Linked DNA regions of Homo sapiens: all the other regions are linked to region 1. Evidence: fine-mapped expression QTL. A gene starts in region 1. Each other region holds a variant in brackets. All regions are shown on one strand. Distances are between the middles of the regions. Region 1 holds the start of LPP (LIM domain containing preferred translocation partner in lipoma). Region 2 overlaps LPP (LIM domain containing preferred translocation partner in lipoma). Region 3 has its middle 31 kb from the start of LPP-AS2.

The links. PIP is the estimated chance that this variant, and not a neighbour inherited with it, causes the effect. A credible set is the group of variants that fine-mapping cannot tell apart.
Region 2: its variant is the best candidate, but not a certain one, in a credible set for the expression of LPP in whole blood (INTERVAL, PIP 0.51).
Region 3: its variant is the best candidate, but not a certain one, in a credible set for the expression of LPP in whole blood (INTERVAL, PIP 0.58).

The regions. Positions count from the first base shown.
Region 1 is chr3:188,151,079-188,156,314 of GRCh38, forward strand. It overlaps LPP (LIM domain containing preferred translocation partner in lipoma), which reads left to right and starts at 3,079. Exons shown (of 12, transcript NM_001375462.1): 1 at 3,079-3,174. It overlaps LPP-AS2 (LPP antisense RNA 2), which reads right to left and starts at 3,010. Exons shown (of 1, transcript NR_036497.1): 1 at 128-3,010. RefSeq lists enhancers at 1,614-2,514, 4,314-5,212 and a silencer at 2,947-3,286.
Region 2 is chr3:188,868,815-188,874,153 of GRCh38, forward strand. LPP (LIM domain containing preferred translocation partner in lipoma) reads left to right here. Exons shown (of 12, transcript NM_001375462.1): 11 at 3,829-3,949. Among named protein-coding and RNA genes, the nearest start is that of TPRG1-AS1, 76 kb to the right of the region's middle. The variant A/C (reference allele first, on the strand shown) is at 3,004.
Region 3 is chr3:188,120,764-188,126,102 of GRCh38, forward strand. No RefSeq gene overlaps it. Among named protein-coding and RNA genes, the nearest start is that of LPP-AS2, 31 kb to the right of the region's middle. The variant T/C (reference allele first, on the strand shown) is at 2,618.

The sequences.
Region 1 (5,236 bases):
ACAGTAAATGGGAATGAGGCTTTTGGTAGGGTTAGCACTGACGACAACACTGTATGCAGTTCACTAAGCATCCAGATTATGACTTGGGTGGTTGTACTCTTGGGAAGTTCCTCATGAGTCAGAATTATCTTTTGTAGTTAACTTTATATGATGTTCATGCTAACACCATGCTCACCATGCTCACCTGAGCAATTCATAAACATTTCAGGAGGAGAAACACAGTGACTTCCCCAACACACCCATACAACAGTTTCAACATAATTAGTAGCATTTCTGGATCCGGCACAGTACTCTTATAATGTATATGATGGAAGAAATGAACAACTCTAATTACACCTTATTAAATCTTAATCCTCATTAGGACCCTATTATTCCTTATAAGTGAGTTACTGAAGGAAAAAAAAAAAGGAAATGCTGGTCAAGTCCCGTTATATTCCATGAGGATTGAGATAATCCATTTTTACTTCATGTAACACTGGAATTCTTTTCATACTAAACAGTAGTACTCAGAATGTGAGTACGCTGAAATGTTTGAGTGAGTGGATTGTGTTTTGATAGGATCTGACCTTTTCAGAACCCCAGAAAAAACTCTCTCCAAGAGCCCGTATCTCCCATTTCAAACTATGTTAGTTGCAAAGAGATAAATTCTTTATTAGTCTGTGGAATGGGTGGTTATTCTCGACCTTATCTCTCTGTTACTGCCTTCATATATATATATGTATGTGTGTATATATATATGTGTGTGTGTATATATATATGTATATATATGTGTATATATATGTATATATATGTGTATATATGTATATATATGTGTATATATATGTGTTTGTATATATATATATTTTTTTTTTTTGACAACAGTCTTGCTCTGTCCCCCAGGCTGGAGTGCAGTGGCGCAATCTCGGCTCACTAAAACCTTTGCCTCCCGGGTTCAGGCAATTCTCCTGCCTCAGCTTCCGGAATACCTGGGATTACAGGCGCTCGCCGCCACGCCCAGCTAGTTTTTTGTATTTTTGGTAGAGATGGGGTTTTGCCATGTTGGCCAGGCTGGCTCGAGCTCCTGACCTCAGGTGATTTGCCCGCCTCGGCGTCCCAAAGTGCTGGAATTACAGGTGTAAGCCACCGCGCCCAGCCATGTTCATATTTTTGTATGTGTACATTAGATAGTTGAGAGGAACACAGAGGTTAAGTAGTCTTACCCCTGAAATGTCTGAATTCAAACACTTATTAAGCACAAGGAAGGTGCTTAATAAATCCAATAACATGTGTTTTTACATTATTTCCTTAATTCCTGGTCAAAAGAATCCCACTAAAGTCCATCCTCAGAAGAACCACTTTTTGGAGTTTTTATGAATCAGTAGCTCATGGTGTACTCTCAACAGTTATGAATGGAATTAGGTCCTGCTAGAGGTCAGGGCCAGGTATGGAAAGATGAAGGGATTAGTCAGGAGACCTGGATGGGAGGAGGGGAAGACAGGTGCTTGGTCAGTCAGTTGTTTTGTGTTGGGCGAGTAACGTTTCTTAAGTTTTTGTCTGAGGTGTAAAGGGGGGACTACGCTCTGTCCTATCTAACTCACCTGAAGATGCAATAGCCGGGTGAGAGACTGCTTTCATTATGTGCTAACGTGAGGGATTACTTTAGATATTAATAGGAGAGAAGTGCAAGGAAAGGAAGTCTCAGGGTATGGAATGCTTTCCTGGCCATGGCTGCTGCGCGTCATAATCCCCTAACACAGTTAAGTGGTGGTTCTCATCGTCGTTCACCCTTACAGATGTCAGAGGGGAAAGAAAAATCCAACTCAAAACTTCCAATGACAGGCTTGTCTGTATTCAAACCAGTTCATCTCGTTCGCAGACTTTTTTGAAGCTATAAGCACAGAGCAAGCTTTCTGGGCGGGGCTCAGAAGTAAACGTTAAACTCCAGGGATTCATTTATTTGAGCACAGGACAGAGGAAGTTGCCCTGAAGCAACTGATTGTCATTGATATTCAGGGCTCGCTGTCAACCAGGACCTTCCAGGAACTGGCTCTGGGCCAAGAGCAGTAGAAATCACTGGGTGGTCCGCACAGCTCGCGGGCATCTAACCTGCTTCAAGGCTCAGGGCTAAAAGGGAGCCAGGGCCCTTCCTGGAGGCGGGAACCCAAGTGGGAGGCAGAGCGCCTGGGCCCGCTCCTCGATCTGCTGAGTGACGACCCTGTACAAGTCATTTCTCTTCCGAGAGCTTCAGTTTCCTCACGTGCCAAGCGGACGGGTTGGAAGTTGGTCTTTGCCAGCTCTGACACCTTGTAAGTTTTGAGTCTTGCTGGGAATCCAGGGCGGGGCTCACGAGGAAAATCTTGGAAGGGGATTTCATGGCTGGATCTCTTCCACTCAAGCTCAGTGCCCTAATTTGACGCCTTAATAGTAGACGCAGGCTTTTCCATTTTCCAGGAGCCCCCTGACGCGGCCGCTTCCTCCTACGTCTCCTTCCTCTTCCTCTAGCAGGGGCAAAGTCTCCACATCTCCCTCTTTCTCTTCCTCCTTTGCAAGCTCCCTGCATTCCCGCGTCTCCTCCTCTTCCTCCCAGGAAATGCAATGCCCTCAGTGCGCCCACCTTTTGGCAAAGCCACTGCCGGCTGCGGGTTTCCCCTCCCCCGCCAGGCGAGCTCTGCGCGGCGGCTTCGCGGGCACACGCCTTCCCATACCTTACATGGACAAATGCGTGCAGGCAAAGTCAGGAATTCAGGCCCCTGACGTCAGCCTCCAGCGCTCAGGGCACCGCACGGGAGACCAAGGGGAGGGGGTGGGGACGGTGGGGAGGAAGGAGGGGGAAAGGCACCAACCAGCAGCCGCTCCAGCCCTGCCGAAGTTTCACTTTTTGTCTGTGGGTTCGTTCCCGGGTCCCGCGCGAGCTTTCCCGGGATAAGTAGCTTTAGCGATCGGGAGACAGCCGGGCGCTGCAAGGTAAGGGCTGGCTGCACGGCCCGGGGCGCGGGGCGTGGGGCGCTGGGCGCGGGCGGCGCGCTCGAGGAGGCCAGTGTGGGGCGCGGGGCCGGGCCTGTCCGGGGCTGGGGACAATGGGAGGGGGAGTGCCCGGGCACCTCCTCCTCTGCCTCTGCCTCCGCCTCCAGCCGCCGCCGCCGCCGCCGCCGCCGCCACCACCACCGCCGCTGCCCCGGCTGCCTCCTCCCTGAGGTATTGTTGCAAATCCTTCCTTCCCCTCACCCTCCACCCGCGGGCGCCTCGGGAACCCCCAGCCCTCCCCCGGCGCGAGCGCCTCCGGGGTGGCAAGAGCGCAGGGCGCGCGCCCTGCTCTGGCCTGGCCCGCTGTGCGGAAGTGCCGGCCGCGGCCCAATCACGGGGTGCACGCCATGGGGGAGGGGGACCCAGAGTTTTTCCAAAAGCGTCGACCCCAGGCTAGGCGGGGTTGGAGCCTTGCGCGCCCCCTGCCCGGACTTTTCTGGGCGCCCAGGGGGCGGGGCCACGCCCATCCGCTTAGAGCTTTCGCGGAATCACAGTTGTCACAGCGGAAAGGGCCTAGACCCAGTCCTCCAAGTCCTCCCATTTTACAGTTGGGGCAGCTGAGGCCCAGAGAGAAGGAGGGTCGCCCGGAAGTTATTTACTAGAGGCCAGACCATAATTCAAATAGTTGGCTCCGGACTTAAGTTCCCTTTCTCTAAGCATTTCTCTAGCACCCTGTGTGTGGCAGACCCTGTGCTGGGTGTATTGGACGTTGCCCTCAAGGAACTCAGTTGAACCTGGGAGTCAAACCTGGCCTAGGGTAGAAAATGCTAAGTGCTGGAGCAAAGGCGTGGACAAAGTTAAAGGAAGTTCCAGGGAGGGGGTTTGATTTTCTGGTCCCTGGGACGGCCTTTTGGAGAGTCCTGCACTGAATGGGGTTTTTGGAGGTTGAGGAGTTTCCTGAAGCCAGCTAGCGGCTTGGAGGAAGACATCTCTTCGAGGGAACCGTGGGCCAGAGAAGACTAAGTAGTGTGGGAAATGGAGATGAAAGTATAAATATTCTTTAGTTGGAGGCAAGGGGTTGGGGATGGGGGAGGTTGTGATATGAGATGAGCTAATCAGTGGAATTGTGCCTGGGTGCTTGGACAGGGCAGAGTCTTTGGAACCTCGGAGTCGTAGGAGAACTGAAAAATCTCTCTGGCTTCCCTTCCCTTAGAAGGGATCCACTGCTTTCCCTCCCCCAACACAAAACAACTAGCGAGAACTCAGGGTCTTCTCTGGGGCTTTTGCTAGTACCAAACTCACTTAACTGTGTTTCCAGTCCCCTTTCTCTTTCCATTCCTTCCCCTTTTACTAAATCTCTTGCCTTTCCTGTAAAATTCACTCTCACTAAGGTGTTGATGACTTAATGGCTTACCTTTCCCTGCACATGTGCATTTTAAGAAAGCCTAAAGTGAAGAAGGGGAAAGTGTGGCTAGGCACCTTTACAAAGCATCTAGCTCCCTCTCCCATCCTCCCCCTTCCTCAACTCTTATAGATAGAAGAATAGGTAAAGGTCCACGAAGGTGGGTGCTAGACCTAGAGCCTATGGTCAATAATGGTGGACAGTGGGGGGTTAGGACATCCAATATGGTTTTCTCCACTTCGTCACCAGTTTTTCTGCTTGCACAGTTCCTGCCAGCACCAGGGGGCAGTTAAAGGAAAAAGTGTGTGGGCCAGGCACGGTGGCTCACGCCTGTAATCCCAGCACTTTGGGAGGCCAAGGCGGGCGGATTGCCTGAGCTCAGGAGTTAGAAACCAGCCTGGGCAACATGGCAAAACCCTGTCTCTACTAAAAATACAAAAAATTAGCTGGGTGTGGTGGCGGGGAACTGTAGTCCCAGCTACTCGGGAGGCTGAGGCAGGAGAATCGCTTGAACCCGGGAGGCAGAGGTTGCAGTGAGTTGAGATCACACCACTGCACTCTAGCCTGGGCGACAGAGGGAGACTGCCTCTCAAAAAAAACAAAAAACAACAACAACAAACAAAGGAGAGTGTGCATTTTTGCATTTAATTTCTACAATGCAGGCCCCAACCCCAACACCCAAAACTTTATAGTCTAGAATGTAGGCTCCAGAGGGGATTACCTATTCTGAATGGTAGGGGTAAAAGCCTGGGGCCTTAGGGTCTGGCAGTCCCCCCAGAGGCAGGCTCTCTGTAAGCAGCATGGGTCTAGAGTTGGTTTTGAGTGTACGCAGAGGGAGGAGAAGCTGAGCTGATGAGCTGATTGCTGTGGCTGGGACTTGAGTAGGATCTT
Region 2 (5,339 bases), 720 kb after region 1:
ACATTTATAAAGAACCCTCTGTGTGCCAATTGTTGCATTAAATGCTGAAGGAGAGAGATACAAGGAGAGAAATTGTGCAGATATATATAGAGAAGTCACTGTCAGCAAGGAGCTTGCCAGGAGGAGGGCAGAGAAAGTGTGCAGACAGGGAGAAAGGGCTGAACTCCATGAGACAGGCACAGGTAAGGGCTTGCACTGTCAAAGTCAGATCACCTGGCTCTGTGGTCAGAATAGGCTTTGTGGACGGAGAATGTCAAGAGTGTTTTAAGTGGGAAACAAGGAGATTCCTGGCAGAGGGAACAACTCAGGCAAAAAGCAGAGGCACAGAGTTAGTAAAGGGTTCTCTGTGTTCAGGGAGATTTGCTTTGCTGTAACTAGAGCAGCCTGGGAGTAGAGATTACCTTGAGATACAGGAGACCCATAAGAAGGGATTTACCTCACCTGCTTAGCCTGCCTTTTATTTATTTATTTGTTTATTTTATTTATTTATTTTGAGATGGAGTCTCACTCTTGTCACCCAGGCTGGAATGCAGTGGCACAATCTCAGCTCACTGCAACCTCTGCCTCCCATGTTCAAGCAATTCTCCTGCCTCAGCCTCCCAAGTAGCTTGGATTACGGGCACCCACCACCATGCCTGGCTAATTTTTATATTTTTAGTACAGACAAGGTTTCACCATGTTGGCCAGGCTGGTCTTGAACTCTTGACCTCAGGTGATCCACCCGCCTAGGCCTCCCAAAGTGCTGGGATTACAGGCGTGAGCCACTGCACCCAGCCTTAGTCTGCGTTTTAAACCAGTGCTTCCCAAACTTTAATGTGCCTGTAATCCACAGAGGGATCTTGTTAAACTTTGGATTTTAATTCAGGTCTGGAGTGGGGCCTAAGATTCTGGATTTCTGTCAAGCTCCCAGGTGCCCATGGCCTGCACTTTGTGTAACAAGGTTCTGGAATACTGTTTTTGAGAACTTGTTAATGGACCATCCTCTACATAAACACCTTTGGTCAATGTTGACTCATATCCTCCAGCCTACTGGACATGCAATCTTTCACATATGTCATTTCAGATGACCGCTGCAACCACTGCAGTCTTCTGGAAGACTATCTCCCCTACCCTAACACACACGTACACATTTTCTCATTTCACCTAAATGGTTATCTTTAAAGGCCCAACTCAATTACCGTTTCCTGGAAGAAAACTTCTCTGATCTCCACCCCTCCCTTTTCTCAAGTTTAGATTTACATCTTAATCTCTGTGTTTTATAGAGTTTTATAAGTCTGCTGTAGATAGCACTTACCACAGTCTGACTGGTATAGAAATATACATATGTGTGTGTGTGTATATACATATGTGTGTTTGTGTATATATATATATAACTTTACAATAATCATCTTGTATCATTTTTGCAATAAGGATTTGTATATATAAATTAATAGAAATACTGCAGAAATATATAGAACTCCTTCTCAGGTCTGTACTGGAAGTCGTTGCTTATTCTTGTATTCCCAGTGAGAAAACCCAGAAAAGCAGATTTCTTTAACTGACTCTTTGCATGTATGGAGGCTTTATTCCCCTATCTGTGCTTTCTTATCAGGAATATTACCCTCATTCATTTATGTATTTAATCAGCATCCATTAGTTGATTGCCAGAAATGTGCCGGAATACAAGATGACCAAGATCATCCCTCTCTGAGCCTTCGCTCTGTTGGCTGTAAAGTAGAAATGATAAAAATACTTCCTCATAATGTTGCTGTCAGTAGAAAATTACGTCAAGTGTGTACAGCACTTAACAGGGCTTGGCACATAATAAGCACTCAATAAATGGTAGCTTTAATCATCGAAAGTTGTTTTCATCAAATTTACTTTTACGATTATTGTCCACTCAGTGAGCTAAGCCTTGAAATAGACCACCTGGGATTGTGAGCCCTCCTCGAATTGCTATCGGAGGAACACTGTGGGGACTATGAGAACCACCTCCTGCCTCTTCGCTTTGGTTTTTCTCATTATGGAAATGAGGCCAATTGGTAGGAAAGAATCATTACTCAGCAAGAATACAGTTTATGTCTTCCCAAAGAGGAAGAACCTTGAGATTGAACATAAAGCCCAACTAATATCTTTTTTTATACAGAAATATGGCAGATTCATTTCATTAGATACAGCCCAACTTTTTTTTTCTGCACCAGTCACAGTGGTTGTTCCTGGAGACTCAGAGATGGAGCAAAGTCCTATCTTGTGGAAACTTAGAGTTTAGTGCCCCATAAATATATCCAAATAATTACTACCAAAATGGATAAATTCAATGACAGAATTCTTATCTTAGAGGAGTAAATAATTCTATTTGGGGAAATTGGAGAAGGCTTATGGATACACTGAAAAGGAAAACATACTTCTGCTCCCACAGAGTTTGGGGAAAGGAAATTTTGCAGTTGATCCCAGAAGCCTACTTATTTCACCACTGATGACCCAGATTTAAAAATAATCTGGTAGTCCAAAGCAATTTTTTGCCACTGAATATAAACTTCTTGCATAAAATACCAATTATAACAACTCTGATTACTGCTGCAGTGGTACCATGATCCTTCTAACTTTTCTTTCACAGCAATCAATTGATCTGCTGCTTAATTCATATTTATTTAGATTGCAGCCATACAGATGCTTTTTGGGTGCTGCCAGGAAAATTAATTACCTACATATAGAATATAATGTATGTAGAAATGCTTTGACAACCGTAACGTGCTCTGCAAAGAGTTAGATTATTATCATTATTTCTTTTTAAGTCTCACTACAAATAGATAAATTTTTAACATCGTTTATCTTAAAACCAGTACCATGAAAAAACTGAGTCACAGTCTGTTTTTCTTTTTTTAAATCTCTTCAGTTCTTATCCAGGTCCATTTCAAATAATATGTCATTTCATACCTTCACAAATACCATCTCCAATTTCCAGAAGATACAGAGAGATACATGGCTTATATTTTCAGCCAATTAACCTGTCATAGAAAAAAA[A/C]TTGTTAGGTACCATTGATCATATTGAGAAATACTAAGAAATTAATAAGTATTAAAAGTATTTACCAGCAGCCTCAAAAACATATGCATATGCATATTTATATGTATATGTATGTGTATGTGTGTTAGTATACACTCACCCTTTAACAGTGCTAAAATCCTTTAAAGAATAAAGAATTTGATAGCTCTTTAACTTTTAATTTTTAAGCAAAAGTTTAACACAATAAAAAATGTAGGAAATGCAGACTTGGCCACTTTTAAGTTTTGTGTAATGTATATTTAAACGCACTAACCTCTGCCCTTTTGAAAAGCTATGTATTTGAGTCTTCTTATGTCAGTTCCTAGAAGTCAAGGCAAATTTCCAAGAAAGAAGCTCTAAAAGGTGGGAACAAGGCAAAGATACCAACCTCAGACTATTTTTCTAGGACCTAAGGAGTGCATACAAAAGTCTAGAAACAAAAGTCAGAAACAAATAGGGGCTGGACAGGACTTTGTTCTCTCCTCCAGTTAGCCTATCCCAAGCACAGGGTTTGCATTCAGAATCTATCTAAAGATGAATTTCATACCGCGCACCATGCAGGAAAGAGATGCTAGATGCTCTTCATGCCCAAGCAATTCACACGCTCACTCTCTCACCTCGCCAAATATCACAATATTTACCACCGATTGATGGAAGAACCTCCACAGTCCCTGAGTCTAACTCCCTCACCTTACGGATGAGGAAGCAGGTATACCGACTCTCAGTTTCCACCTCTTCCTTTTACCTCTGCGTCCCACCTCAGTGTCGACGCGCAGTATCTAACCAGAACTCTCTCTTCACTTTCAGGAAATTTGCCCCGCGATGTTCTGTGTGCAAGGAGCCTATTATGCCAGCCCCGGGCCAGGAGGAGACTGTCCGTATTGTGGCTTTGGATCGAGATTTCCATGTTCACTGCTACCGATGCGAGGTCTGGTTGACAGCCCTGCCCTGCCAGTCTGTGGCAGGCGTTGAAAGGCTCGTTCGAGCTAGGTTTACATAGATGTAGCAATTACTAAATCTCAGAACGGCCTTAGTGCCTGTACTCATAGGACTTGGGTTTTAGATTTGACACTAGTATTCCGAGCACATGCTGTTGAATAAGTCACTGTACCTCTCTCAGTCTGCTTGCTCACCGGAAGAAAGGACTCAAGTCCTTAACTCCTCCAAATATGGCTGTGAGAGTGAAATACAAAATTGTATATTAAAGGACATTGTAAATTGTGAAATACTAAATTAGTGAGAAATGGTGTTATTGAACATTTAACTTTGGCTCTGAGGCTTTGGTTAGAACTTCTTGTTCAGAGTCATGGAGATTTATTTATTTGTTAGCATGCACTACTAATTGCTCAGTTTCCTGAACGCCTCTAGAGCTGCAGTATATCTGCATGTTCTTTTCAGTAAAGCCAAACTTCCCGCAGAGTATAACCATTGCTGCTATTGTGTTCTGGATACCCCGTTAACTTAAATTTCATTCTATGTCAAATGAAGACATGAACTCCATTGACCTCCTTGCCACCATGGTAGATAGCAGAGGCGAGGTTCATAGCTGTTGTGGCCTTTGAGAGTTTATACTAAAGTTAGCAAACACACACCTCTTGATGAAGTACTATGTATTTATTTTCCAAAGAAACTTCTATTTTCTCCAAAGACAAAGGCCAGCATTTAACTGTTATATAACACTTTTCAAAATGGACCCTAAGAGGAGCTGTCAGCGGTAGTATATTCCTTTACAGTTATGCAGTTCTTTGCATTTTTTTTTTTGATCCATTATCTTCTTTGATCCTCTTAACAGCTTGGTAAGGTAGAAAAGGCAGAAGTTATTTTCAGAGTGGCAGTCGGCCTGTGTGCATTGAGGCAGACTGTAGCAAAACTGTGGGTGGTGCTCAGGAGGCCTGTCCCCTGGACTAGCAATCTTTGCTCTCCACAATGCTGTCTCCTTTAGAAAGTACAGCAAACCACTACTCCCCACAAACTTTAGGATTTTATTTTCTTACTGCAGTTGAAGTAAATACACCGAACCCACTGGTGGCCCTTCTGCTTGGCAGACATCAGTCTACCTTTGCTCTAGGCCAGAAATGGCCAAAACATTCCATTCCTGTACCTGTGCATGCATTTTGAGAGATCCTTAAACTAATGGTAAAGGGTAAAAAATGCATCGGTGGTTAGGGACATTCTTATTTTCTCTTGTTGAGTGGGGGCAGCAAACTTCTACATGGGAGCCAAGATGGGTGGCCTCTTCTCTTCTTATACCTGTATTTCATATCAAGTGAGCTTAGGAGGATTATATTTATGTCCATTTATATTTATGTCCCCAATCT
Region 3 (5,339 bases), 30 kb before region 1:
AGAAGGAGAAGAAAATTGCTAAACACTGTTTATCCCCTCACCTCATTAAAAAATTCACTACTATAAAGTTACATTCTATTTTCCACCCATAATACTAACTCTGGGCTCAAGCGCACAAATACACACATGAAAATAATTCAGGGAGGAATTAGCATGTAGAATTACCTGGAATAATGTTTAGTGTGTTCGTTTAGCGGTGTGAGTTGCAGCTTATAAAACACCTCTGTTATGCTGCGTGCTTGGAGGATTCTTTGCATCCACAGTCACAGCAGTGCTGCACACTCTCTTGAGGCCAGGCTCACAGAGAAGGTGGCACTGTGGCATAGAGGGACAGATTTGGCCCCCTGTGAGCTCAGCTCCAGCCTCCCTGCATCCCAAAGCAGAGGGTATTTTCCCTAGTGGAAGAGACAGAAGGAACAGGTCCTCAGTGGAAAAGAGGAGATGAAACGTGTCAGCAGTAGGAACATCACACTGAGAGACAAGGGACGGGGCTACAGTCTTGGCCATGCCATCTCTCATTTAGTGATCTTAGTTAATCACTCCTTTTCTCAGGAAAATGAAGGGGTGTGGCCAGATGGGGCATGGCCTGAGGTTCTCTTGTAACTCTATTTGTTTTTTGTTTGTTTGTTTTTTTGAGACAGTCTTGCTCTATTGCCCAGGCTGGAGTGCAGTGGCACGATCTCAGCTCACTGCAACCTCCGCCTCCTGGGTTCAAGCAATTCTCATGCCTCAGCCTCCCACAAGTAGCTGGGATTACAGGCATGTTCCACCACATCTGACTATGTTTTTTATTTTTAGTAGAGATGGGGTTTCACCATGTTGGCCAGGCTGGTCAAGAACTCCTGGCCTCAAGTTATCCTCCCACCTTGGCATCCCAAAGTTCTGGGATTACAGGTGCGAGCCACTGTGCCTGGCCTCTAACTCTAATTTTTAATGGTGTTTATAATTTAAGTCACAGATTTAACTGTCTGTTTCCCTGTCTATAATGTGGCCAGGTTGGGCCAAATGACCTCTAAGTGGTCTTTGAGTTGGCTCTAAGCTCTAGAAATCTGTAATTCTACGACTAAATCAAGGCTCACTAAACACATGTAAAAGGAGAAAGGCTGCGGTTCCCCAAAGCATACAGGATATCAGGTTGCTCCCAATGTGCTAGCTAAGGCTAAAGTATGAGGTTCTCCAGTGCAGGTCACAGGGCAAACAGGTGAAGCTCTCAGTCACTTGGGTGCAGAGTGGCAGCTTCCCACACCTGAGGCCATTCTATCCCACTACTCCTGCCTTCAGCCCTGCTGTTTCAGCAGCCCTAATCATCAGAAGGTTGCATGGGCCCAGGTTGCACAACTCAGGGTCCCTTCTAAGACCTCTGAAGTCACCCACCCCAAATTCTTCCCCATCCATTCCTAGTACATAGTTTTCCAAAATCTCCCTATAGGTAGCCTGTTTCATCTTTCGGGGACTTTGATGATTAAGAAATATTTTGGGTCAAGGTGTGGGCCAAGGTATGTCTCCCTGTAACTTTTACCATTGGTCAAGTTCTGTCCTCTGAGGCCTCCTGTGACAAGTCTGCCCTCTCTTCCCTGTGGAAACCCACCAGGCCTTCGGTGACAACAGGCAAGGCCTTATGAAGTCTTCTTCTGGGTAAGGAACTCTGTTTTTTCTGATGGCATGGTTTTCGGCTATCTTACTCTCCTGGCCTGTAAATTCTCCACATTGCCAAACACGACATGAGACTTGGGGGATAAAAGATGTAGGTTTGAGTAGTGTGTCCACCAATGGGCTCTATTGCATAACACAGCTAAATTGAAGTTTTTATTTAGGGCGGATAAAATGTTGAATATAAACTTATAAATAATGAAGTGCTGCATAAAGGATTGTTATTACTACTACAGCTACTCTATATTGCTACTAAAAATAACAATTACCCCTACTAAATCAAGAACACAATGCAGCTGTCTTCTGAAACTACAGAATAGGAAAGAGAGCTGTCTTTTGCTTCGTCATTATATTCCTATGCCTTCAGCCTAACACCACTGTCGCTGTTTTGGTAAGCTGTATCTCAGAGTTGGCTCAGCCAGAGCTTACAGGCAACCAAATATTGAAGCTGCAGTTGTATTACACATGCTGCTGTCGGCCTAGGTTTTCCCAGTTCTTGTTATTGTAAAGTTAAGGGATTTACATTTGTCTCTGACATTTCATCATGTTTGTTTCACCCTGTTCAGATACTTTTGGACTATGATTCAGCCATGAAAAACAGTGCTTTCCAATTTTGGCTTCATGTCAGAATCATCTTGGAAAATTTTCTTAGCATAAATATTCCTCCTGAACCCTAGTCTCAAGATTTTAATTAATTTATTGTAGGGTGGGACTCAGGAAGCCATACCTAAAACAAGCATTTTAGGTGGTTCTTATCAGTGAAAGCATGAGGTTCCATCAGCCTGCATTTGGAAATCCAGCGTATACCACAGCCTACTCTGCTCAGTGTCACCTGAGCACTGGATAAACATGGCTTTTCTTTTAGGAAATCTTCTAAAGGGTAAGAAAATATCTACATCAAAGGTCAGGTGAAGACTGTCACAATGTTTGCATTCTGTTAATGTTGTACTTTCACAAGTCATTTCCT[T/C]CCTCATTCTCTAAAACAACGTAGATACAGCAACCTACAGATGAGCAGGACATAGACACAATGCTCCCATATGCCACTTTCTTTCCCACCAGGCAAGGTCGTGCCTTCTCATATCAGAAGTGTGCAATCCGGCCAAAAAGAGCATCCAGACTTAGAGTCCAGAGAAATTGACTGAGTAGGCATGTAAGTTGAAACCAATTTACCATTCCCTATTTTACCAACATTTCATCATTTCATTTTACTGGGAAGCCCCAGAGAGGTGCATTTACTTGCCAAGTTCACACAGTTTCGTCTAAAGTGATACGGGAAGATTCTTTCTGGACTTGAAGGAGCCCTATGTCTTCTTTACTGACTTTGATGATTCATTCATTCAGCACACACATACAGAGAATTCTCTGTGTACTAGGGAAGCATTATGTGTGGGATGGAGTAGAAAGAAATGAGACATAGTCCTTTTTCCTTTATCTCATTCTTGAAGTCCAGTAAGACAAGACCTATACAAAAATAACTGCCCAAGGTGGGCAAGAATGAATGCCATAAAAGGTCAAGAAAAGGAAGAATCACATTTTCTTCCTTCTAAGGAAAAGAGTTCTTTTGATCTTTCAGTTAAAAAAAAACAAAACACTAATTTCTCATTAAAAAATATGCTGCATTAAATCCATAATTATGTCCATGTGATCCCTTCAATGTCATCTCCTACATGGTACAGACCCTGCCATTTTTTAAATTATTTCAATAACACTTAGCATAATACAATGCACACCAAGGACTCACCTCTACCTTCAGTCTAAATCTTTTTATTCTTAAGTCCTGGGCATTAGCACAATTTTGTTACTAAAGACCTTTGAAAATGTCTTAGCTCTGTGACTACTGAATTTCTTCATATGGATCTACTTTAAAAGGCTTTCCCCACATTACTAAGGCTGTGGTCTAGTTCTTATATACCACTTGAACAAGAGCCTTCTTGTTACATAAATCCAGAGATCATTCCTCTAAGCCCCTGACTCATTGTTCTCACAGCTAGGCATTTCTGAAAACAAGATGCCATTTTGTTTCTAGGGTCAGAGCTCAAATCTTTATTGCCTCTGGTGAGATGATATTCTGTTCGCTTTCCTCCATTTAAGTATATAACATACCCTAAAGTATGTGCTAATTAATACATCTGTTTGTCTTACAAAGCAGTCGAAAAGCATGTATTTAAACTGTGATTCACATTTTCCCTTTCAGCCCGTCTGCAGATTTTTGTGCATGAGGAGCCTGATTACATTACTATTTTAAAAAGCCAATTAAAAAGTTCACTAAGTGACACTGGTGTGTTTTAGTGCAGGTAATAGAAGCATAAAGCTCTATGTGGCATTAACAAGCTGAAAGATACAACTGGATTTGATGGCAGAATTCATTTCTTCATCTTTCCAAAACAGTCTTCTGGAAAACAACTATGTATCTGTCCCAGAGGCAGGCCATGGGCACGTAGTCTGCACAGGCACTTTTAGGTTACAAAACAGTGAGCCATCTGTGGATGCACTCAGAGGGTTCACTGGCAAAGTCTTTATGGCTACTCCTTTAGAAAAAGAAGGGCTGGGTTGGGCGTGGTGGCTCATGCCTGTAATCCCAGCATGTTGGGAGGCTGAGGTGGACAGATCACAAGGTCAGGAGATCGAGACCATCCTGGCCAACATGGTGAAATCCCGTCTCTACTAAAATACAAAAAATTATCCAGGTGTGGCGGTGTGCGCCTGTAGTCCCAGCTCCTCAGGAGCTGAGGCAGGGGAATCACTTGAACCCAGGAGGCAGAAATTGCAGTGAGCTGAGATTGTGCCACTGCACTCCAGCCTGGTGACAGAGCAAGACTCCTGACCTGTACATTTGCCCAGTCTGAAACACATGACCTGAGGTTGGCCAATCCTGTACTTCCTCCTAGGACTTTGATTCTTTAGAAAATGAGGTGCAGATGGAGGAAACATTTGCAGTTAAAGCAGATCAGAGCACTAACACATGGGCCAGATTGTTCCTGATACATGACATTGACTATAGATCCTGTCTCCTACCCCAGCTCATGCTTTTAGTCTCCTAAGTCCGTTCTAAGATCATCACTTCACTATACAGATGCTCCTTGACTTACAATGGGTTTACATCCTGATAAACCCATCATAAGTTGAAAATGTCCTATGTCAAAAATGCATTTAATACATCAAACCCACCGAACATCTCAGGATAGTCTAGCCTACCTTAAGCACACTGATTACACTGACATCAGCATACAGTTTGGCAAAATCATCTGGCAACACTGCACACCATAAAGTATGAGTTTTTTTAGCTTCGTGATTGGGTGGCTGACTGGGAGCTGGGGCTGGTTGCCTCTGCTCAGCATCGCAAGTGTATCCTAACACTTTCTACTGAATGTATATCACTTTTGTATCATTTTAAGTCAAAAAATTGTAAGTCAAGCCATAATTAAGTCCCTTTTCACATGAGATAACCACAGTCTGTTCCTGTTGCTTGTGGCCAACAATCCTGATTGGTTCTAAAAAAAAGATGATTCCTCTATTAGAAAGCTTGGCTCATGCCTGTAATCCCAGCACTTTGGGAGGCAGAGGTGGGCAGATCACATGAGGTCAGGAGTTTGAGACCAGCCTGGCCAACATGGTAAAACCCTGTCTGTACTCAAAATACAAAAAATAGCCAGGCATGGTGGCGCAGGCCTGTAGTCCCAGCTACTAGG